Regions from separate parts of the Homo sapiens genome. Here region 1 is linked to region 2. Evidence: fine-mapped expression QTL. A gene starts in region 2. The other region holds a variant in brackets. All regions are shown on one strand. Distances are between the middles of the regions. Region 1 holds the start of LOC124901182 (a long non-coding RNA gene). Region 2 holds the start of LNCBRM (lncRNA SMARCA2 (BRM) associated).

Region 1 (12,688 bases), 50 kb after region 2:
TGTCGACTTAACAAAATAGTAGAAAGAGCATTGGGCTGAAGTGAGAAGATTTGAATTCTAGTCCAAAATCTGTTACTAACCAGCTCTTTGACCCTGAGAAGTCATTTGACTTGAATTATAGTCTTTTTCTTATATGGGAAAGGTGGAGTATACTCAGAGTCTCTCCTAAGTGCTAAGATTCTGTGATTCTATGAAATCAGACCATCAGAGAGGAATACTGCAGTGTTCTCCTGCATGGGTTGTAAATGGTAAGTAGAAGGTTAAAATGTGCTGTCAGATTACTTCTGTAGGATTATATTTATGCTTTACTTTAGAGATTTTTCAGGAATTTGATAGAGAGAAATTTTGGGACATGCCTCAATTTATTGGAGTCTGCTCCTGATTATCCACAGCTATTTGAAATAATTTGAGCTCAGAATTCTGTGGAAATGTTTTATGAGTAAATATATTTGATATAGGTATAGATATAGAAATTATAGATAAGTAGGAAGTTATTTGTATAAATCAGATTGTATGTGTGGAGGAAATGGGGGCAGGAGAGAAAGAAAGAGAAAGAGAAAACACTAGTTTATTTATGTAGATTAGGGGAAGAGCATTAACTTAAAAATATGTTGAGCGTAAGATGGGAGCTTAGATGGTATCTGATGAAAAGTTATCTGTAATGTAAGTTACAGCCATCTGTCAAGATACGAACTGAGAGAACAGAGCAGATGGATGGGAATGAATGTATAAGAAGACACAATTCTCACCCTAGGTGAAGGTCTAACAGGGTAGATTCATATTTCAGGCTTCTAGTAATCACTTTGTTAATAAACGAACCATACCATTTCCAAACTTAGAGCAAGACACCCAAGATAGAACAGCTTCACAGACAACTCTAATCTCATTTATCATCCTTGCCATTTGCTGATGAGTCTAGAAATTTGTCAGACCTATTTTGTTATGCCTGGGAAGGCATGGTTTCTTTATCAACATCAAAATAATAGGAAGCCAGTCAAGAGGTTGTTCACCTTTCTCCAGGAAAAGAGAGTTTGGGAGGGAGATATTTTATAAGCATTTTAAAGAGACAAGGGCCTCTGACTATGTTTCTTAATTTGTCCCCAAATAACCTTGTCTACTATACAATCAAGTTTAGAAAACTTATTTAAGGTTTTGAGATTCAAAGAGAATTAAAGGAATGAAAGCTATCTGTTTCTGAAATCATTAGATCTTTAAGCAAACAATTGTATTCAATGGAAGGTAGAGATGCTCTTTCATTTAGATGGAAAATCAAATTATAAAGATCATTCACTACAGGAAGGCAGCTGCAATAAACATCCAACTGATTCAACTGCAGAGATGTAGGGTAGGTAGAAATCCTTCGAAAATTTGATTTCACTTCTTTCTTATGTTCCATGTAGTCTTTAGCTGTAAACACAACTGGACACATTTTTGTAATTGTTACATATCCTATAATAGTATAGAACTGGGACATAAATTGACTATTTGGCTATCTTCTTGATAGAATTGATTTAATAAATTTATAAGAAGCTCCAAATATATAACTCAATTCATTAAGTGTTACTTAGGAGAGAGTGATAAGAACTGTAAAAATAAGGAGAAATTTGAATTTAACTTGAAGGTGACCTTTATGATATTCTAGGATGGATAGTAAATTTGCCAAAGTAACATCTGAAGAAATTCAAAGTTATAATAATAAAAGCTATTTTTTTAGTCCAGATACTGTGTCTAGTATGCCATAGACATAATATTGTTTAGAAGAAAAGGAATCTACATTATGAAGTAGAATTAGTAGGTGAAGCCTGCTTAAGGCAGAGAAGCTTAGATTTGAGATTCGAAGGAACATTGTAGGGTAGATCTCAACAGGGATTTGAGAAGTAGCATTCTGGATTGGGCTATAGAATAAGCCAAGACCTGCAGGCAAGAAAGAACAGAAGATAAAATATATGTGTGGGAGAAAAGGGGCCCTGGCTGTAACAGAGTGGGAAGAAGGTAGGTACCTAAGATGAGTACAATTTGTCAGCCTAAGGATTTGCTGTTAAGTCTAATTCAAAATGATTTTACAGTATAAAATACCATCTTGTTAGTGACAGACCTTTTGTTTCTCCTTTCTTTTGCTATTTAACTGTTCATCATGAAAAATATATGAGAGAAAACAAAGAATTATAAAACAAAAGATTCTGCTTGTGGATATGTCAATCAGTAGAGAAAGAACAGATGACAACTCTAAAAATTATCCAGAAATTCATAGTTATTATTTTGGGAGCTCTTTTCTTAACAATCAACACAAAGGCTGCTGTTTTTTTTATTTTCCTTCATAGCATTGCTCAGTAGACTAGCATTCCCTCAGTCAGGTTGTCTGACTTTTCAGTCACATATTTTGTTTTGTTCTGCCTTATTTCTACCAGGCATTAAGCACTGTATTCAGGATGTTTATGTTTTTTTTTTCTGGTTATATTTTTTCTTTCCAGAGAAAAAAGAAAGAAGGAGAGCAAAATGACTTAAAGACATTTTCAAGAAAAAAAGAGGAGAGAAGTCACTGAAATGGAAAAATAAACATATTATATAACTATTTATTGCACTATGCAATAAAAACATCTTCAGCAACAGCCACACAAGTGCGGGTAGAGGGTCTGCTTTGAAGAGAGAAAAAAGGCTGCTGCAGAAAAAACAAACCTCAATTCATAATTGGAGCTTTTGTTCTTTCTGGATTGTTTTGTGAAGAACATGCTGCCAAAAAACATTTTTCTTCTGTAACCGCTTCTTTTGAAACTCCATTCTTTTTTATTTCAAGGATGTTTATTATCTACTCATTTCTTTTTATTTATTTTTGAATCATATACCCCAATGTCTAGATGACTGGGACCACTAGGTTTCATATTTCCCAGATGAGATTAGTTGTACAGTTCATTTTGCAGGTTTATTCAGAGCATTTCAATGGCATTTCACCTACAGTTCACCTATATTGAGTCCTAAGAAATTGAAGGTGTTTCTTGATAGTTCTCCTGCTCCATCTTCTTCCAGGGGATTGATTTGGCTTCTTATGTTTTTGTATTTGGTTGCTCATTAGAGATAAGCCTGATTATTTGGCATTGTGTATTTTCTCTGTTTTAAAAAGGGAAAATACAACATGTTATTAATTATTATGATATAATAAAAAATGGAGAGAAGGAAAAAGATTTTCATCCTGACACTTTGAGTCATTTTAAGAATTTTCAGCTTGCTTTGTCATTTGTTTCTTTAAACTCAAGAGATTTGGTTTCTGAATTTGAATAATCTTCAATACACTGCATGCTGATTCACAGGTCTCCAGTAAAACAACTTGAAAAACTCAAAAAAGGATCGAGTGGCATCATCTGTGAATATAATGTCCCAATCATCTACAAATTGCCTTTTAAAAAGAAAAGCCATTTCAAATGTATATGAGCATCATGTAACAAAAATATTAATATTTTAGCTCTGTGCTCATTTCAACTTATAGAAAACACCTCATTCCCCCCCCCAAATTATTACTTAGTTCTAAAGCTAGATATATAAAATTTTAGGATGAAACCAGATTGAACAAATTCTGCATCCTTGAAAATACATGAACACTGCAAATAATGATACAAATTCTTAGCATTACAATTTGTTTCTAGCTACTTAATAATGACCTGGATTGAAAATTAAAATAGTAGTATAGATAATCAAAATAGGGACAATGTAGTGCTTTTTCTCTAATCAGTTTAACTGAATAATGCATAGATTCAGTATCCAGAAGGAATATCATCAACAAAATTACAAAGTTACCAGGCTTCAGGGCACAATAGGACTTAATTGTTTCTGGATATGAAGCTCCTGATAGCATCATAAGAACTTTTAACTAGAATTTTGCTTATTGCAGTGGAAATTTAACTGTACTGTATAGGTATATATCACTAAAAATAAGATGAAAAAAAGACGAGATGGCATATACAGAATCGATAGCCCTCAGACATTTGAATGCAGGATGCAGCTGCTTTCTTGCAGAATATGTGGTGGTATGATTTATGGTCCCCCATTCCTAATAGTTTCTTCTATTAGCCTGTTATTGATAGTTGAAATGCAGTACATTAATTAAGATGGTTTTGAACACAGGTAATAGAAAGTCCAACTCAAATTATTTTAAATGTATTGTCCCATATAGAAAGTGCAGCAGTACGGATAGCCATTAATGTTGGTTGATTCACAGGTTAACTGTGTGATCAAGACCACGTTAACACCATCATTCTGTTCTGCTTTTCTGAGTCCACTTGGTTTTTGGCCTGTCTCATCAATGATGTAAGATGACTTTTTGGGGGGATGCTGGCCTTTGGAACCCAGCCACCTGGGGAAAACCCAGGCTGCGTGGAGAGGCTACATGTAGGTGTTCAAACCAACAGCTTCAGTAAGTTTTAGTTGATAGCCAGCATCAACCACCAGAGTGAATAAGCTTTCTACTAAGTCCAACTCCCAGCCTTGGAGTCTCCCAGTTGAGGTCTCAGATATTGTAGAGAAGAGGCAAGGCATCCCTCCTATGCTCTGCTGAATTCTTGACTCACAGACACTCTAAGAGATGATAAATAATTGCTCTTTTCAGCCCGCTGAGTTTTGGGCTGATTTGTTATACAGCAATAGATAACTATTGCTATTGCTATATGTTTCATTGTTCATGTGCAGTGTGTAGGGGGGAGAGAGGAAAAGAGAATGAAACTATGATAAACCATTCTCCACTATGAAATTACAGTCTTTCTGTTCTGTCTGATTGAGTCAACTTGGTCTTATGCCCACTCCTAGACCAGTAGCAGTTATCAGAGAAAGCTGTGCATTGGTTGGTTTGGAATATTTGAGGTCTCTCTCTTGAAGCTGCGAATGGAGCCAGCTTCCTTGGCATCACAAGCTGTTTAGGGGTTAGTTACATACTTGAACCAAATATAGTTAAAAAGGAGAAAGAGGAAATGAAAGGTGAGTTAGGCGAAAATGCCCACTACATGCAAATAGAAAAGGGTTTACAAATGTTAAAGTACCCTGACGATTTTGCTGCATTACTATATGATAAAAATTTAATTACAGAAAACTTTTAGTATTGAAGCATAAATCAATATTTATAGAGTAGCTTTTGTATAGAGGCACTGTAGCAATTTCAAGGAGTTGATGATTAGTTAAACATGAATCTTGCTCTCCAAGAGCTATATACTAGAGTTGAAAAACAAAAAAGTGAAAGCAAAATACAAATTAAGTTACAGGGTAGTTTAGAAAAGAGAGGACTCACTTCAACTTAAGGTCAATCAGGGGAGGCTTTTTGGAGAAGCTGGCCTTTGTCCTGAGAGAATGAGTCAAATTTGGAATTATGGAGAATGATAGAAAAGGGATTCTAAGCAGAAGGAAGAGCACATGCAGAAACGTGGAAACGGGAAATGTATAAAGTCTGAGAATAGCACAGACAAATTAGAAAATACAAGTGGGGCCTTATATTGACTTCTTATAGTGCTTTCATCATCAAAGAAGCTTGTATGGTATTAGTGCAGGAAAGGGGAAAAAAAGATCTAATGAACAAATAACCAAACAAGCTAACCAATCAAAAACAAAAAAAAAACAAAAAACAGAAGCACTCATAGAAACATTCCCATATATATGTGGAAACTTGGTATATAATGGAGGACATTACATTTCAGAGGAGAAAAGGACTATTCAATCAAGAGTGCTGAAACAGTTATCCAAAGTGATGGAAAAGGATACAATTAGGTCTCCATCTCATCTCACACACAAAAACAAATTTCAGGTGGTTTAAAGACCTAAGTGTGAAACACAAACTGTGAAACTTTAGAAGAAATATTGAAGCATCTCTGGATGATACCAGAACAGGGATAGATTTTTTAAAGATGTCACAACAAACTAAAAGAAAACACTAATAAATTTGACTATTTGTATAAACTTCTAAATGAGAGTAGACGTCACAAGTAAACAGACACTGCAAAGCCAAAATGCAAGCCTCAGATGGGAGAATACATGTGCAGAGCATATAACTAAGAGTTGGTTTTCAGAATGTGAAAAGAAACTTTAAAGTCATTGTAGAAAACATAGTCAACTCGAGTGAAAAATAAGAAAATCCCCAAGACGGGCAGTTCACAGAGGAATAAACTGAAATAGCCAATTAACATTTGAAGAGCGACCTCACTAGTAAACATAAAAGCAAATTAAAGCAATGAGATTTATTTTATACTGATGGAATTGGAAAAAACCCAAACATCTGATGACTCTATGTGTAGGTGAAAACTACGGCAAAGTGGAACTCTTACACATTGTGGACAGGAGTGTAATGATCAAGAACTACTGAGGAATGCAATTTGGCAATTGTCAGTAAAGTTCAAGATGTACACTCCACATCACATCTGGAAATTCCCCTCATATATATAGGTGTCTCTGAGCCTGGCTCAGACATGTCCACTAGAAGAGTTGAACGAGGATGTTCATTGCAATGCCATTCATAATAGTATGATTGGCCTCCATATCTATCCATAAACAAATACATACATTATGATTTAGTTATATAATAAAATGCAATAGAGCAATTTAAATGACTGTACTAGATCTACATGTGTTAAATTGGACAAATCTCAAAAATATACTATTGATTGAAAATATCAGTTGTGTGCTCACAATATATTAAGTTTTAAACTTGATACCTCAGCAATATTATATATTGCATATATGTTAGGTAAGGCACCAAAACAAGCATGGAATTATACACACTAACCCCAAGATGATGGTTACCTCTAGGACTGAAGGAAGGAGAGAGCGGAGTATGTATTTGTGTGTGTATAAAAAGTCTGAAGGAATTGTGACAAAATATTTATACCTAGTAAATCTGAACATTGGGCACACAGATCTGTTATATTTTCCATATATATTTTTCTATGTTTGAAATACTTTAAAGTGAAAACACATTAAAAAGAATAAAAAGGGAAGTATTTAGATATGCCTTTCCCCTGTCCAAATGGCTATAGATGTACTGAGAAATTCTTTCGGTATAGAACATTTAAAACTACAAAAAAAAAAGTTCAAAATATATATAGTTGAGACTGTAAGAAATGAATGAACTCGAACAGAGATAGTTGGCAAAACCTAAAACTGGCATTTCCCCTGGGCT[A/G]TCAGCCAGACTTTTATAACCTAGAGCTTGAGTTATAAAAGGCTACAAGGGTCATAGAAAGCCAATACTGGATCCACAAAAGGTGGAAACTTGTATAACAGACCCTTACACAAAGGTAGGTTTCCTCAGACAACATCACCACAAATGAATGGTCCAGATATAAACCTGCCCAATAGATGCAATGAGGATTTATGTCTGTCACAGAACTCTCTCAAGTTTAGAAAGAAGGGCAGGAGCCAGATCATTGAAGTCTGATGTGACAACTGACCAACAATATATTCATACAGATTTTCTGGGGGGAAAAAAAGCAAAAGGAAAAAGAAAAACAGATGGTATGGCACTCCCCTAGAGGGAAAGACTTGGGTAGAAGTAGGCATGAAGACACGTGAGTAGGGCAGGGTATGAGATTGAAAGGAGAGGAGAGAGCCAGGAAAGCATGCCACCTCCTTTCTCATGTTTCATATGGCCATCTCTCACTTGTACGGGCCAGGACAAGAGGCAGAAGTGATGTTCAACCGAAAGAGAATGAAAATAATGCCTTTGTTACTGATCCCCTTCTAATCCTGCCATAGATTCTTAACTTAATCTCTGCTTTTTTCTCCACCTTCCTAAAGCCTACACATCTTCGTAAAGTCTAGCTTAGACTCACTTTCCCCATGAAGACTTCTCAAACAACTCTTCTTTGAAAGCTATAGTCTGTATTAAAACTTGAGTATAGGTCATCTTATTTTACAACTTATCATTACTTGGTTTGTGTTTTTCTTGTTTTCCCATTTGGATTACAAGTTGTTTTGCAGTCATACATATCTTATGGAATACCTAACACAGTGTTAAACATTAACAAATTCTTATTAATTGCTAGAAGGATTATAGTTTCAATAATGAGTGGCAAATCTGAGGGGAGGATTTACCTGTAAAAAGTGTGGTCATTCCTGCTAGGAGTTCTACCCTTGAATCAGGCATTAACTGCTCTTTTTAACCTCAATTCTGTTAGTACTATAATGGTGAAATATTGAGTAATAATCATCTGTCATAAGTGTGTGTGTGTGTGCGCATACTAATTACTTGAAGCTTTTTTTTTTTCTTAAAGCTATATGTTGCTCACCACTATTTGATCTCAGGCTTAACAGTTGAGGTTTAGGGTTACAAAAATGGGATCTATCTATACCTGATTAAGCAGAATCAATATTAATTGAAGGATTTAAGGTGGCTTAAAGAATCGATGAGGAGTTTGGAGAATCCAAGCTGGACCTGAACCACAGAAGACAAAAACTTGAGATAGAATACTGTATGTTAGAATCTCTTTTGTTGACACCGCTGTTGCTGGGCTCTCTTCAGCTTACCTTTGGAGTCTATTGCCCATACTTGCTCCACAGCACTGGGCTCTCATCTCTGTGGAATTCACTGGAAGACAGGTCGTGCACCTTTGCGTCTCATTCTTAACACTAAAAATCTTCGGAGTATCTGTTTGGGTGGGCTGAAATCGCCCCTTTAAAGGGTTGGGGAGAGAGTGTTAGTTCCCCTTTGGCATCAGCAGTGGAAAGTGCCTGCCATCCATCTTGGAATTCTCTCTGAATATGAAGAGTGCTTAGATGCTGGGAAGACAAAATGAAATGAGGCTATTGCACAGGAAGAAAAAAGGGAAATTAAAATCAAATGCAAAATGACACTTCTAATCCATAAAATATATTAAGCATATTTATAGTGCCATGTTGTTTATAATATCAAATACATTGAAGGAAAGATATAGTTCTGTATGTTAATCAAGTTTGTAAATTTTGTAAAGGTACTGCTGATTTTGTCATTTCTGAGCAGCAATAATTTTGGCTGTAATTGTTACGTAGGATCCACACACAGTTCACCTTTCTATAAAGCAGCAGCGGGATGAGCTCTTTTAACTTGGGACATCTGAAGGCATCGAAAGGGTTAGTTGAGAATGACTTAACATGTCTTAAATGAGAATATATTAACATATACACATATGCATTACTCTTGAGAGAACTCAGGTATACAGATATAGCACTAACTGTGGTTTACAACAGCGTCTCTGTATAAAAATCTCAAATTTCTCCTTGTTAATAAACTCACGACTTGCTATTACCTGTGAGAGTTGCTTTTATTCTGCTTCTCATTGGTCTTTCCCCAGATTCCTCTGGTCTTCTTTTGTGTGTCCCACACTGCTGTTGACACACGCTTGTCCTGGGAAGTGACTTTGTTGTTTCGGGGCACTATTACTATTTCCAGAAATCTTGGAACCTGTTTCTACAAACTTCCTTGAAAAGTCTGTCTATGAGCAGTCTTTATTGTTGCTCCCCCAAATAGTGGAATAGTGGCTGTTTATTACACCTATTTTCTCTAGCTGATGCTGTTTATGTTCTGATTCTTTAATCAGCCTTCTGTGTCTGATGTGCTCTTACAGTGATGAAATAGGTTAAATTCCAATTTAATTGCTCAAAAGAATGACTCCTTAGTTGTGATCTTAGCTGAAAAAATATTTTGTGATTGGACACTTTATCCATATTTGGACTCCAACACCTCCTATGCACCACTGTGAAGCATCCTCCCTGGGAGTGGGCGTTCACAGTGGAGGCAGTGGGGGCAGAGGCCATGAGGACACTGAGCAGAAGGGCAGCACACCCAAAATTGACTTCGGAGAGGAGGAAACTGAACAACGTACCTCCTAATTTTTTACGTGCCTATTTTTTATGCTTGAAATTTTGGGGGATGAGGAATAATGGTTCTATAAAGCCTAGGCAACATATTATAGTCACAGAGATCTCAGTGGGGTTTTTCTTTCTTTCTTTTTTTAATTTCCGTAGGTTTTCGGGGAACAGGTCGTGTTTGGTTACATGAATGAGTTATTTAATGGTGATTTCTGAGATTTTGGTACACCCATCCCCTAAGCAGTATCCAGTGACAGTAATATTCTTTAACACTTAAGTGACTGGCTATCTCCAAACAGGGGACTTTTTTTTGCAACTAAGTTGTGTGTGACCTTGAGTAAGTCTTCCCATGCCTCTGAGTGTCAATTCTAGAATGTGCAAAATGAGGACACTCAAGGAACTCTGAAGTGTTTTACCATTATAATTATAAATTGAGTGAGTTGTACCTTCAGTGAAAGATATGGCATTGAAAGTTTATACTTGTTAAATGATCTATAAATCAAATACAATGATAACATAAGTTTGATGTTTTATTCCTTTATGCAGGTCAACTCTTAGTAAAGACAAAGCCAATGACATGGAGTAGATGTTAGCAAACCATGACCCCCCACCAGCCAAATAAGCCCTGCTGTCTGTTTTTGTCAACATTTTATTTGCATACAGTCAAACTTGCTCATTTATGTATTGTCTGTGGCTGCTTTTGTGCACAATGGCAGAGTTGAGTGATTGTGACAGAGATAGGGTTGCCGGATAGAATACAAGAAATCTAGTTAAATTTGAATTTCAGATAAACAAAAATATTGCATGGGACGTACACTAAAAAAAATTTGTTGCTTATTTGAAGTTCAAATGTAACTAGGTGTGTTGCATTTGTCTTTGCTAAATCTGTCAGTCCTAGACAGAGACGGTTTGGCCCACAAAGCCTAAAATATTTTTCACCTGGCTTTCTATAGCCAAAGTTTGCCAACTGCTGATATAGAGGACAGATTTCTGAGCTAGTAAGAAAGAAACTCCTGACTTTCAGACCTGGTTTTGTTACTAATTTGCTGTCTAACATTAGATTAGACCTTAGTTTATATATCTACAAGTGAGTCTAATAATACCAGCTTCTCAGGGTTGTTTGAGGATTGCTGACATTAAGGGTGAGAAGGCACTTAGAGAGGAGCACAAATGGAATGGAGATAGGGTTCATGTTAAAGTTCCAGAGGGCAAGGGTACATTTCCAAACATTGCACTATGGACCCTTAGGTTATACTCCTCCTCTTATTGAACCCTATTGTTTCTGGTCTCTGTATTCTTCCTGGATACAGAGCCAAAAGGACATAGTAGCATAAAGTATGGTGTAGCTAGAAGGAAGGGTGATAACCAGATACTCTTCACAAAAGCCAGTTGACTAGATGTTAGATGAAACTTCAAACACATCTTTTTATTTATTTGATATAGCTTTATGCTAGATAGTATTTTAGACTATGGATTAGGAATACGTGTAACTGTTTTTTTCCTGTCTTAAAGAAAATATCGTTATTTAGGAATCAGACATGGGAGTGATAGTTCTTATTCCTCATTTTGACAGCTCTAGCATTAGTGAGAGCAGAGGCTATATTTCAAAGGCATGGTGACCCTAATTTCATTTCTGCACAGAGGCAGAGCGAAACAATGTGACGAAGTGAAAAAAGGAAGGACATTAATGCTACTGTTATGCCACTTTAAGAGAATTATTCCAGTCCGCTCGGAATAATTAATCTGTTGTACAACATTTGATGAGGTGCTCACCAAATTACTGCTACATGCTGCATTAAAAATTTTGTCAGCTTTGTTCTGCTTTGGAATCCTGTGCTTATGAGAACTTTACCTTAGGCAGAGGTGAGTACTATCTTCTGTGCTCTTATAACACTTTAAATATAGTTTTATTATGGCCTAATAATTTATTGTTTATTTGCTTTCCCAGTGGGTGGTGATTATCTTGACATCAGAAGTTTCTATTCATCTTTATATCCTTAGCACATAACTTGGTGCTAGTAGACACCACATAGATGGTGATTGAATGAGCTGAGTAAATATGAAACCGATAGAATCACTTTTATACTCTAAAATGCTGTACTGCTTCACCTCAGCTTATGTTATCGAATTAATTTTTTTCAGTGGCTCAATCATTATTTGTTGTATATTTGGAATTATGATATGATTACTATTCTTCATAACTCTTATCTTTCTCTCTTTGGCAATCTGACCTGCCAACGTGGATTCCACTCTTCACTCAATGTAAATCTCGATTGGGTAACTCTAAACCCTCCCTCCTTTCCAAAGTCCAGTCCTGGATACCTCTACCTGGACATTCAGTCACACTAAATATTCCATATGCAAAGTCTACTAAAAATATCAGAGGAACTGGAAGACAGAAGACAGACAGCTAATTCTAGCTCTTCTACTAACTGGCTGGGTAAACTTGTCAAGTCATTTAACTTCTCTGCCTAACATAAGGCAGTAGTTGCAATAATAGTTTCCAAACTGTTTACAGCGCAGCTTTGTAGCATTCTGAAACAACAAAAGGCATCATAAGCATTTAATATTGGCTATGCATTACTTGTACTAAGTTGTGAAAATATAGAACTCAAAGGAGATTGGTGAAAAATGCATTGTAATTTTTCAAAGCATTTCTCTTAAGCAGTAAAATAGAGGCTTTTTTTCAGAAGACAATCTGTTAGAATTTTGCCACCACAGCTCCACTGCTGATGAAATAGAACCTGGGTATCACAGGAATGCTATGGAAGCCAATGTAAACCACACAGCCAACTCCTCTGGGAATGACTTATATTACTGCTTGGGCCAATTTTAAAGAAAATCCTGTGTCAGCACTTTCTGTGATGGTCACTGGGCC
Region 2 (12,688 bases):
AGTAGACAATGTTAGTATGCACAGCTTGCTCTGCTACATGATATAGGTCTCTGCACAGATATAACTTTTGTAAAAAGAACTTCCTTGGCCACATTATCCAGAATGTTACCTTTCTTCCTTCATCTCTCCTTACTTTGGTTTATTTCATAAAGCAAATACAGCTATGTAAAATAACGATGTTTAGTTAGATGCTTACTTGTTTATTGCCCGTTTCTCCCAACACTTGAGCTCCATGAGGGTAGGGCACATGGTCCTAGAACAATTCTGGAAATGGAGGAAATAAGCAGATATTTGTTAAGTGAATGAAAGAGACAATGATGAATGGTGGAACAACTAGTTAAAGAAAATACTACTAGCTAAAGAAAATGGTTGGGAAAAACAGCCCTCACCTCCTCCTCTTTTTCCTTCTCTCTCTTTTGTTCTTTTTTCCTCTTTTCTTCTCCATGCGATGCATGCTCATCTTTGCCTTCTGCTATGAGTGGAATCTTCTTGAGACTCTCACCAGAAGTAGGTGCTGACACCATACTTCTTGTACAGCTTGAAGACCTGTGAACCAAGTAAGCCTCTTTTCTTTATAAATTACCCAGTCTCACATATTCCTTTACAGCAACACAGACAGTCTAAGACAATGATAAACCTAGAATTTGATTCCAGATGATTTTAACATAGGAGAAAAAGGGAAGTGCAGAAGGGATTTTAAAATGTGCTAATATTCTTGTCTTTTTCTTTATGTGTGTATGTAATTGTGTGTGCGAAGATGGGATACAGATACTTATTAGCATTGGAGATTGATAGGCAAACGTATTTAAATCTATATGTTAAATTTTAATACTGAGAATCTTCTAGTTAAAGTTGGCAAATCAAACATAGTGAATCCACTCCATTTCAAATGTTTGTTATAATTACAGGAAAAAGATTTTTTAAGGCTATCATTCACAAAGTAAAGAGACTTGGAAAGGAGAAAACAGCAACAGTGTTCTGGGAGCTGGAAAGTGGAAGAATGAAGGGCTGCTGACCTAGCAAAACACCGAGAGCTGAATTTTAAATTGGCCTTGGGGAAAGTGAAGAAGCAAACCGATATATACTATGGAATCCCCACATCACAGGAATTGGCAGCATGAGGTGCCCGTGGAAGTGGGAGGTGGAGGTAGGGCCTAGCCCTGTGTGGTGGGTTGAAACCCTATTTATAAGTAGTAGGCTTTTAAATCCTAATCCAATCCATGTAGCTGCAGCTTGTCTCATCCCCTCCTGAAAGTGGCTGAAAATTTATTGTCTGAAGTATATAAACAGAGGGTCTGGACTGGGGCACACAGGCATATTTGAGGGTGGGGTACCACATTAAAGTAAGTGGTAAAGTGCAAGTCTACTGCCTGACTGTGAAGACCAGCAATCTTCACAGATTTCCCCATTTGCTGCCACAATTCCTAGCTAGAATTAAGCCCTCCTAGCATAGCACGAGCAGCCTAGAGAAGACCTAAAACAGATTGACACTGAGCCTTCCCCAGCAGGATGTACAACCAGAGTTCCCCTCACTGTGAAGCTCCATGCACAGAACACACACCCAGCTTTGGAGCCCCTCACTCTTAATTGTAAATGAATGATAAGAATCACTAGACATTTAAGGAAAGCCTCTAACATGAAAGCCAGAGACCAGGAAACAAACAAATAAACAAACTAAAAAAAGCAACTTGAAAAAAATAGAGACTATGCAGGAAAATGGAAACTTAAAAGAAACCAAACAGAACGCACTATTTTCATTAATGTCCTTGGAAAAAGAAGATATTTCATTTATGAAATAAAAGACAGGAAGCTATAAACGTAAGACATTTAAAAGACAAAAATAAAGTCTTTTGGAAATTAAAAATATGAAAACAAATTTCAAACACAGTAGAAGATTTAGAAGATAAAATTGAAAAAATTTCCTTGCAAGTACATAGCAAGAAGACCAAAGGATAGATTGAAGAGAAAATAAAAGAAATATAGAGAACTGAGTCAAGAGTTCAAGATATTTCAGAAAGTATGAATAAAGAAAGTAGAGAAGAGGATATTTTTAAATACTTCAAGAAAAATCTCCAAAGCTGAAGAACTGAGCTTTAAGATTAAGAGAATACATCAAATGCTCAACACAAATGGGTGAGAAAGTTCATAGCAGTGTGGTCAAAGCAAAGTCCTAAAAGCTGAGAGGGAAAGGCAGGAGGGGATGTTATGCTTTTATAAGTTTTCATATTTTTATAATCATGAGGAGAATAAATAAGATTTATATACCTTACCACATACAAATTAAAAATTTATATCCACAGTGAAACCATTCTTGAATGCCAAGCATAAGACGAGAAGAAAATAGTTGTAATATATACCACAAATAAAGGCTTTAATCTGTATTTTATGGAGAATATCTACAAGTCAATGGGAAAAAGGCATTCTAATAAGAAAATGGGAAAAGGCTAATGGAGAAAAACAAATGCTCTAAAAATAAATGAAAAGATGTTTAATCCTACTGGTAATCATAGAAATCTGAATTGAAATATGTAGAGTCTATTTTTTTTGCCTATCACATTGGAAAAACATTTAATTATTAGTAGTATCCATTGTGTCAGTGCAGGTTGGGAAGGGGTGTGAAGGAATGCATACTCTCATACACTAGGTAGGAAGGCAAATGGCTTTTAAAAAGGAATTTTGTAGTATTTATTAAAATAACAATGTGTAAACCCTTTGACTAATCAAATATCCTGAATATCTGTCCTACAGAATACTCCTGGATGAGCATTGAGAAATGTTTATAATTATGTTCAGTATAGATTGTTTACAATGATAAAACGTGAAGGAATCTAAGTGTCCACCAATAGGGGATGGGTTAACAATCATAGTTCATACCACAAAAGAGAACATACTCATGAAAAAGAGAGGGCCCAGTCTCTCTGTATTAACTTTCTACAAAACAGTACAAGGGAATTTCAGGCAGTACTAATAGATACTGAGGATCGCAGTGTTTTGCTGACGAGCATAGTTGCTATGGAAATTTAAGTAAACCAAAACTCCCTTGGGGAATGTATTAGTCTTAGCTGGCTTTCTTGAAGCAGTGAGTAGGTGGGAAGTAAGTGTTAGGCTAGGAAAGACTAGAAAAAGCAGGCATTTCAGGAGGGTAAAATAAGGCCATGGTTAGCGTGCAAAAAGCAGAAAAAGGGGAAACGAATCACTCATAGAGGATGGATGAGCGACCTTCTCACTGAGGGTGAAAGAGCATGGTAGAATCATGTCTTCAAAACAGAAGACAGTCTCTTGAAGAATGTTGCTGGCTTGCTGTTTTCTTTAGCTTAAGAGAATCAAGAGACTTAAGTAGAAGATTCTTTGGTGAATAGATGATTTGTACAGGAGAAAGGTCTTGATTGTGATTGTCTTCAAACCATGGAAGAAATCATGTGGAGGAGCTCTGTAATTTCCACCCCCCAAGATAAGTTAAAATAGGATAGTCTCTCCCTTACATAGTTCAGATCAGGTTTTGGAAACCTTAAAATGCAGTTTCCAAAGTTCTAACTTCTCACCTGCTGGCAGTAAGAGGGCAGCAAATCACATCCTGTATCCTGACTGTTCTCTGCAGGTGTGAGTGGGGAATTGGTGTGGCAGGGGGAAGTTTTGATGGTAAAACGAGCAAAGCTTTATCCCTTGCCCATCGATGCCCTGGAATGCAGTGAGGAGAGGACAGTGGTGATAAACCTGCTGTGCTGTGTATTTTGTTTGCTCCTCTAGATTCATTCCTCCCTTTTCAACCCTGCTTTCTTCTCTAGGAGGCTGACCTGTGTAGACTATATTAACTATATCAAGAACACCCTTGCCCTTGGACTTCTGGTTGGGTTAAGCCAATGGGGGCATCTGCAGGAGACTGGCAGAAGGACAGAGTGCAAGTCCCAGGTGTGACTCTTGGCTCCCTTCCAGCTAGGTCACCTCAGCCTGGCTGTGCCTCTTCAGTGTAGGTCCCTGCTTCTCACAAGGCATCCTGTCTCTGTACAAGAGCTTTTTCCTCTTGGCCATTTTACTATGTATTAGTATTTAGTATTTTTTTAAGTATTTTTTAGTATTTAGTATTTTTTTTTGGGGGGGAATCCTTTCTAAGTCATTTTTCATTTTATTTCTGCCATTTACTACATGTCTGACCTCGAACAAGCCTCTAAATTTTTCCGAACCTCAATTTCCTTATTTGTAAATAATAAAAAAAGGGTATCTATCTCATAGGGGTCTTGTGATAACTAAACGAGACAGTCTATGAAAGGGTTAGCATAGTGCTGGTGGTACTGGTATATACCATATGGCCTCTAAGTGCTTTTTGTCCTTACAGCTCTCTCTTGTCAGAATGATTCCAACTCTCCATTCCCTCCCCAATCATCACTCTAACAGTTTCAGAAGTGAATTCTGTCTTTTGTTAGTTTTCATTACCAGTTACTTCTAGTATTTATTATTACATTTTGATGTTTTGGAAAGCTTTTTGCCAGAAAGTGTCTTCTAATTTCACACTTCTAAATAATGCAGACAATGTAGACAGCCCTACTAAAAACCTGAAAGACATTGTCAGATTTGGGGGTCAGTTTTCAAACTCTCTACATTTTTAATGCTGGTGGGCAATATCAACAATGGTACAGGATGGGCAAGGCTACATTGCAGGGAGAAAACAGTTCACTACTATGCAGTGCCATCTGAATGCCACGCTTGGAGAAAGTACATTAGTATCTCATTGACACATTTAAATATCCTGGAAGGGAATACTGTATTTCTTTAGGGCAGAGATTGCCAATTGCCTTCCCAAATGCATTCTCTGCTTTCTCCTATGCCGGGCACTTTGCTACCTGGCAAAAGACTACCTTCTCTTAAATAATGAAGATTTGGCTACATGACTGAGTTTAGACAAAGAATTGCAATTTGGACATAGGTGTGCTGTGACTTCCAAAGTGTCTTTCAATGGAGAGAGCACATTATTTCTTTATTCCTTTCTTTTCTCAGTTTTTCAGCATGTAGACATGATGGCTGGTGCTCAAGGAGCCATCTTAAACCATGAGTTGGCAAACTAAGAATGGAGCAGGGCCACAGAGTGGAAGCCTGGGTCTCTGCCTGTGGATTCATCATCTCAGCCCTCAACTGCCAGCCTCAGGTTTCTACCATGTATTTAACTAACTGTTGTTATTCTCTCTCTCTTTTTTTTTTAAAATAATGCAGCCAGCCTAGTTCTAACTGATGCATTTAATCTGAGTTTTGGATATAGGAGGCAAGAGCTCAAGGATGTTTTCACTTTTCTTGGATCCCAATAAAGCACTTAGAGAGGTAGAATTACTATCCATTTCTGAAAGCAAGACATTCTTTTTCCAGTGATCCATGCTACTTTCATACTATTCTCTTTCTCACTGCTGCTCCCCACCCTCTCTCTTTCTTCTCTTCTTTTTATCAAAAGCTGAGGTTCAGGGCTCAATATTCAAAATCTGGTTCTTATTGGGATTTGGATTACAATTATTATTTGATGGAGTCTTTAATGTGTTTCCAAAGCCACTGCCTAATTGTAGAAATGAAGAGTCAAAAAATAATAGGATCCTCTGTAAGCAAGCATCCAATAAATTATTCAGAATTTTTAAAGGATGCTTTATCATCAGATGTTTATAGCTTTAAAGCCAGAAGAACAGAGGGAGAACACAAAAGAGGCCTTCAAGTCATCCTCTTTTTTGATGGTTAAATGTTACTACAAGTCTTGCTGTTGCTACCCTCACTGTCTGCTCTCCCTGGGATTTAATGGAGATGGCAATCTAATTATTACCAGAAGCCCACCCAGATAGTTAAATACAGTTCAATAATAGCTTTGTGAGGGAGGGAGCTGTGGCAACACAGAATGGGGAACAATTAGTCTTTTTCAGGCCAGAGAAAGACCAATATTATAACATAAATTCCTCAGCGATAACATTGCCATTTTCTCCAAGTCATCATAAAATAAACTAGAATTAGGAAAACAGGGAGATGTGTGGAATGCTGTCACACAAAAGGCCCACAGATGAGTGTGGATCAAGCTAATTTTCAATGCATAACCACATGATTTGAATACCAAATTAAGCAAAAATAAAACACAACCCCCACACCCAACCTCCCCAAACCTCACCTAAATAACCATTTCATAGATATTTGAGATGTAAAACTACTGAGATTTTCTTTTTTAAGAGCTCAAGGGAAGTGTCTATAGCTTGAAAAACAAATATTTATAAATTATAAAAGCATTGTCTCTGTTTGTGAATCTGTAAAATCTCTGCATCTTGACAATTAGGAGGCAGAAAATGTTATACATAAGCACTTCCTTGTGAGCTGGAAGGAAAATGACTGGTGAGATGCTTCCAAATTTGTTACTTTCGGTGTATGGGAAGGGAGGAGGTAAAAGCATTTTGAGAAAATTGGGAAGCTTGAAATTTTCAAGTAGTGTTTGATTTGTCAGTAGAGAATCTGCCCTGGTACCTTATCAATCTATGAAGATCACTTTTTTATGTTCTCAGCCTGATGGCATATGTCTCTTCATTCATCCTACACCATTATCCATTTTTCCTCCATCCGTTTTTGTAATTTCCTGTTAATGTGCCCCAACCAAAAGGTTGCAGAGTGGGCCGGGCGCGGTGGCTCACGCCTGTAATCCCAGCACTTTGGGAGGCTGAGGCGGGCGGATCACGAGGTCAGGAGATCGAGACCATCTTGGCTAACAAGGTGAAACCCCATCTCTACTAAAAATACAAAAATTGGCCGAGTGTGGTGGCGGGCGCCTGTAGTCCCAGTTACTCAGGAGGCTGAGACGGGAGAATGGCCTGAACCCGGGAGGCGGAGCTTGCAGTGAGCCGAGTTCGCGCCACTGCACTCCAGCCTGGGCGACAGAGGGAGACTCCGTCTCAAAAAAAAAAAAAGAAAAAAAAGAAAAAGGTTGCAGAGTGTAGTGGTTGAGAGATGGATACTGGAATTACCTTTCTGAGTTCAAAACCTGGCTTCCCTAGCAAGTGATCTTGGGCAAAGTACTTTCTGTATCAGTCTTTCTGCCTGTGAAATGGAGACAATGCAATTCATGTGTGGTTATGAGGATGAAATGAGTTATTGTTTTGTTCAGTGCCTAGAACAGTGTGTGGCAAACAGTAGGTGCCATATAAGTGTTTGTTAAATGTCTTAGAAAACAACTATTGTGAGCTTCGGAGCTATAAATTGCCTACTCAAAATGGATAAACGAATGGATGGTATTACCATGTCTCCAATTGAGGCAAAAGGAGCGTATGTGTGTGTATGCGGGGGGTGGGGATTTGGTGGCATCGGGAATTGTGAGGGATGAATGCCCAAGAACCTCTGTTTTGCATGCTCTTACCAGTATTTTGGTCGTGGAATCACTAGCACTGAGGCTCTCACAAAGGGTCCCCTGGACTTTGATGTCACTGTTGAGTCAGGAAGCACACAGAGGAGGGAGGAGGCAAAATCTTCCCTAAGCAGTTACAGAATGAATTGATGTGGGCAGACGTGGGTCTTGCTTTGCTGAGGCTGGGTGGTCAGAGCAGAAGTGTTAAAGACACAATGAGAGGCAGCTTCAAAAGCCGTGGCCTTGCCAACAAGTGCTGGTAAACAAACGTGGTTGCCAGACCGATGCAGTTGGCAGCATCCCACAGTGGGGTGGTCCCCGATATGCTGGCTGACCTGAAGCCAGGTCCTGACAGGTGGTGGGCAGACGCTGCCCAACTTTTCTGATCAGGACTAGAGAATACCCCCAGTGAAGGCTCTGTATGGAAGGACCAATCCTCCAGCAGTGGCTGCATGATAAATAGCATGTATTTGGAAAACAGAAGGAATATGGGCCCTCTGCTGTGGATTCTCTGACCTTCAATTTCCTCATGTGTAAATGAGAATTAATAATTTCCACTTCATAAGTTTGTCATAAGAAAAAAAGTGAGTATAAAAGTACTTTGTAACTAGAAGTATATATTACTGATATTGGTTATGATTGTGTAGATGATAGAACCAGTTTTGTGGTTTGTTTATAATGCAGAAATGACATGCTTTATATAGTAGAGATATTCCTGAAAAGGTATGCAAATATTTTCTCACTTACCAGATCCCAGGCCCTTTAAGAGAAAAGACCATGATGTATTAATTTCAGTAGTCTCCCTGTGTTCTTTTGTTCCAACACAATGCTTTTCTCTTAAAAGATATGGAACAAATACAGCATCTTGCTCCGCAAAGAAATTGTATAGGAAAGAATCATTGTCTCATCTTTAAAATCATGGAGATATTTTATTTAAATAGCTTCCTGCATTTTCTGGGAATATTATCTTTTTTAGAAAGCACCATATTTACACTATGTACTATAGGACTCCTCTAATAAGTTATCTAACTACTCAATCTTGATAAACCTAAGATGGATTCAAGTTCATATAAAATTAATGGTAAATTATTTTGAGTAGCTATTCACTCTGTAAATTAAAAAAATTTTCTATGATTTCTTTAATAAAATAAGATTAGAGAATAGAACAAGGCTCAGAAATTTTTATGACTTTAAGGAGAAACATCTGCTATATCTTGTGTTTCTTTTTAAAAATATGGAAGCAGAGTGAAGCTGTCATCTATGAAAGATAAATCACTGGAAAGAACTCCAAAGGTTTAGAACTATTTGGCAAAAAGATTTATGAAATCTAAAAGCTAGGAAGAAAGAACAGAATGAATCAATCAAACATCCTCTTTGTTGTATGGAGTGAAGCTTGTTTGGAGTTTTTTATGGGCTGGCTGTTATTTTTAATTAATTAACTAATAGTTAAACATGTTTTGAAATATGTCTACATTGTAGAATGGCTAAATCAAGATAATTAAAATATTCATTACGTTATATACTTAGTTATTTGTGGTGAGAACACTTAAAATCTACTCTCTATGCAATTTTCAAGCATATAATTCATGGTTATTAACTAAGTCACCATGATGTGCAATACATCTTCTGAACTTATTCCTTCTGTGTAACTGAAATTTCATATGGTTTGACCAACATCTCCCCAAACCTCCTTGACTCCCCCAGCCCTGGTAGCCACCATTCTACTCTCTGCTTCAGTGAGTTTGGCTTTCTAGATTCCACATATAAATAAGTGAGATGTGAACGAACTTCGAAGTACAAACGATGACATGAGTCCATCCTCATTTTGTGAGGAAGAGGAGTTTTAGAAGTAAAAATGTGCTGGGCCACTGACAGGAAAGTAGTAAATACACCACTGAGGTTGAGAAGATATGAAAAGGAAAGCTGAAGGTGTCTTTGGTGGGCTTCACCATTTTGTGAAATGGACACTGGATCTGGTCCATTTTCGCTCCATGTTCCAGCAGACAGAAGCAGGGCTGATGACTTTTATGTCTCAGCTACCAACACTGTGTTCTTTGATCTCCTTCAACCTTCGCAGAGCAAATCACTGCTTCAGAGGCTATCTGAACCTACACCTTGTGCCAGGGCACAGGTTGGTACAGTTATAAATTGCTTCTAATTGTCATGGTCCAGCTCTTTTTCCACTCCAATCTTTTCTAGAATGTTTTTTTACCAGTCAGTTACAAGTTTGTGCTGAGGATCTGAGTCCTTGCTCTTCCACATTGGTAAGTTTAAATCGCTATTGCCAAATAAGGGAAGAATATTGATTTTTAAGCTAGGTTGACTTTTGCATCATTTATGTTTATTTGTTTCCTTTGCATGGACTAAGTTAAAAGACTTAACTATGCATTTTGTATTTAGAAAACAGGTTTTTTTTTTTCACAAACTAATAACCCCTGATTAGCTCTGGTAATTATCCTAAAGTTTGGTCTCATTATAACCAGCATTTTGCCATGAGTTTGCCCTCTAGGAATTTGGAAAGATGTATGATGAATTCTGTTTTCAAATCACTCCAGCTTTGGTGTCTTACAATTCTTCAATTAAGAATAGAACAAATGTTTCTAATTAAGAATAAAATAGAATTATATATTTTCTTTTCTCTTGTACAGAAAAAAATTATGAGACTTTGGCCTTGAAAGTCTCATAGTGAGTGCCTGTCATGTTATAACAGGGCAAAAAGTAAGTATAATATTCAAACCTTACTAACCTGTAAATTGGGGGAGAAAAACCAATGTGAATTAGAAGAAAAGACTGAATCATAATATATTGTAAATAAATGAAATGATTTCACCTTTTAAAGTACATGGACTGAAGATTTATTTAATTATAGTGATGATGATGATGGTAATACAATTATAATGGCTAACACATATATAGTGTTTCCTATGTTCCAGGCACTGTTCTGGCAGCTTTACATTTATTAAGTTATTCGATCCTCACAACAACTCCATGAAGTAGATAATAATATCTCCATATTACAGATCAGAAAAATGGCGCACAGAGAGGGGAAGTAACTTGCTCAAGAGATTGAGTAATTTTGCACAGTGATGAGTGGTATTTAGTTACCTTACTTTTAATGAATTAATTCTAACTTTAAATGAGCATTTGAAATGCTTCACTTTGTTGGTGAAATGAAATAAATAGGCATTTTCAAGATCAAATCTAGCTTGGGGGGTTCAGTGAGTGAAAGTTTCTCAGGCTATGAGGCATTCCAAATGAATGAATATTTCCCAGTAAACAAATGCGGGAAACACCGTTCTTTTAAAACTCCAAACAAGTAAATTTGTAATGCTGAAATTTAGTGAGATTGATACATTGTTATTTACCATTCTGCTCCCATAAATTTCAGATATAAAGCAATGCCTGAGCATGGACTGTATAAATTATTTTTGGAACACTAGAAGAGGCACTAGTCATAAAAAAATTTAACATACAATTTTTAAATAATACATTGTTCAGACTTAGTTTGTTCTCTCTGTAATTCTATTTGGTAGCAGAAACCTTATTCTTAGTTTTCTACTTCACAGAATTATAGCAAATGCCAACTATTTCACTACATTTGACTCTTTTCTAGAAGAAACACAGAAGTACTGAAAGTATCAATATGTTACCACATATTCAGGGTCTGTGATTAGCCAAAATATAATAGAAGGAATTTAAGTATAGGGTCATAGGTGCCTTGAAACATAATTCAAGATAATTCCAAGCCCATTTATATCTAGTTCAAGTTTATATATAGAAAATTTAATATATTATGAATATGCCTTCAATTATTATATTCACAATTGTTTATTTGAGAACATGCAGAAAACTTGGTTAGTATGAGATTTCAGTGAAATTATATACTGTTGTATAACTGTGAATCATGACATGAACAAAAGCTACAACCCTCTGTACTCCTGATAGCTATTTTATAATCTCTTATGTTATACTTGTCAACTGAAGCCTAGGTAAGAGTTAGTGTGACCTTGTGCACGTACAATGGCCTTGGGCAGTTAACACAGCCCATCTCATCAGATGGTTGTGAGGTTCTAAGTATTTATTACATAGCAGGAATCATCGTTAATCAATTAATCACCACCCCATCATTTAATTTATGGATTAGGAACGAATATCATCCCCTCTTGATAAATGAGACAATAGAAGTCCAGAGAGTTTAGGTAATTTGGTAAGCAATTATTTGAGTCTGAATGCAGGCAGGCTCTGGGCTCCAGAGCTCATGTCCTTCATGGTTAAGATGATGAGGATCAAGTGGACCACAGATAAAAGCCTTTGAAAAGCACATTGTGTATTGTGCGTGAGTGTTAGTTAGACACGAGTCATATTAAAGATACTCGTGATAACAGTGAGAAGATTAACAGTGAACATTTTGAAGTTTCTTAAATTTGTTTTAAGACTTTCATTTTTTAATGATAATAAGTGCAGCTCTTAGCACTGCACATCAATAAGTAAAAGATGTACCAATTGCTGTGGGTTCCCCAGGAAACAGGCTGATATGATTTGGCTCTGTGTCCCCACCAAATTCTCGTGTTGAATTGTAACTCCTGGTGTTGGAGGAGGGGCCCGGTGCGAGGTGATTTAATCACGGGGGCGGACTTCCCCTTTGCTGTTACCGTGATAGTGTTCTCACGAGATCTGGTTGTTTTAAAGTACGTAGCACCTCCCCCTTCTCTCCGTTTTCCTCCTTCCTGCCATGTTGAATGTGTCAGCCTCTCCTTCACCTTCCACTCTGATTGTAAGTTTCCCCAGGCATCCTTCCTGTACAGCCTGTGGAACTGAGAGTCAATTGAACCTCTTTTCTTTATAAATTACCCAGGTAGTTCTTTATAGCAGTGTGAGAACAGACTAATACATAGGCTCTGAGAGGGAGAGGTTTATTGGAAGCTCTCTCAGGAGATACACCTGTGAAGAAGCGAGGACGACAGGACTAGGCAGAGCGAAGTGCTGATACACAAAGTGGTTGCACCTGAGGTCTTACCCAATTGTACTGGGAGCTGGGATGCCATTTCAGAGTTTCCCACCCCAACGTTTAGCCCAGGGGGACTTTATGTTACTACTTAGCCACTCATTAGTCATGGGCTGCTCCCCTGGAGGGGAAGTAACCATGAGTGGGACAGTTCCCTGCGAGGGGAGGAAATTCCCAGTGAGGGATGCAGCTGTGAACCATCAGCAGCTAGTATTCTCAGCAGCTGCAAGAAGAATGCTCGAGTCCTGAAGATCTGGGTGAGACACCACAGTATCCACTATACCACCTCTTACAAAAGGTGAAAAAAGCCCCAAACACATAATTAACTAAAAGTA

The links. PIP is the estimated chance that this variant, and not a neighbour inherited with it, causes the effect.
Region 1: its variant is fine-mapped to the expression of LNCBRM in subcutaneous fat (TwinsUK, PIP 0.95).

Annotation. Positions count from the first base shown.
Region 1 is chr5:57,614,254-57,626,941 of GRCh38, forward strand. LNCBRM (lncRNA SMARCA2 (BRM) associated) reads left to right here. Exons shown (of 6, transcript NR_120607.1): 5 at 1-248; 6 at 2,472-3,177. It overlaps LOC124901182 (a long non-coding RNA gene), which reads right to left and starts at 8,395. Exons shown (of 2, transcript XR_007059133.1): 1 at 8,316-8,395. The variant A/G (reference allele first, on the strand shown) is at 7,148.
Region 2 is chr5:57,564,035-57,576,722 of GRCh38, forward strand. LNCBRM (lncRNA SMARCA2 (BRM) associated) reads left to right here and starts at 6,308. Exons shown (of 6, transcript NR_120607.1): 1 at 6,308-6,348; 2 at 9,997-10,066.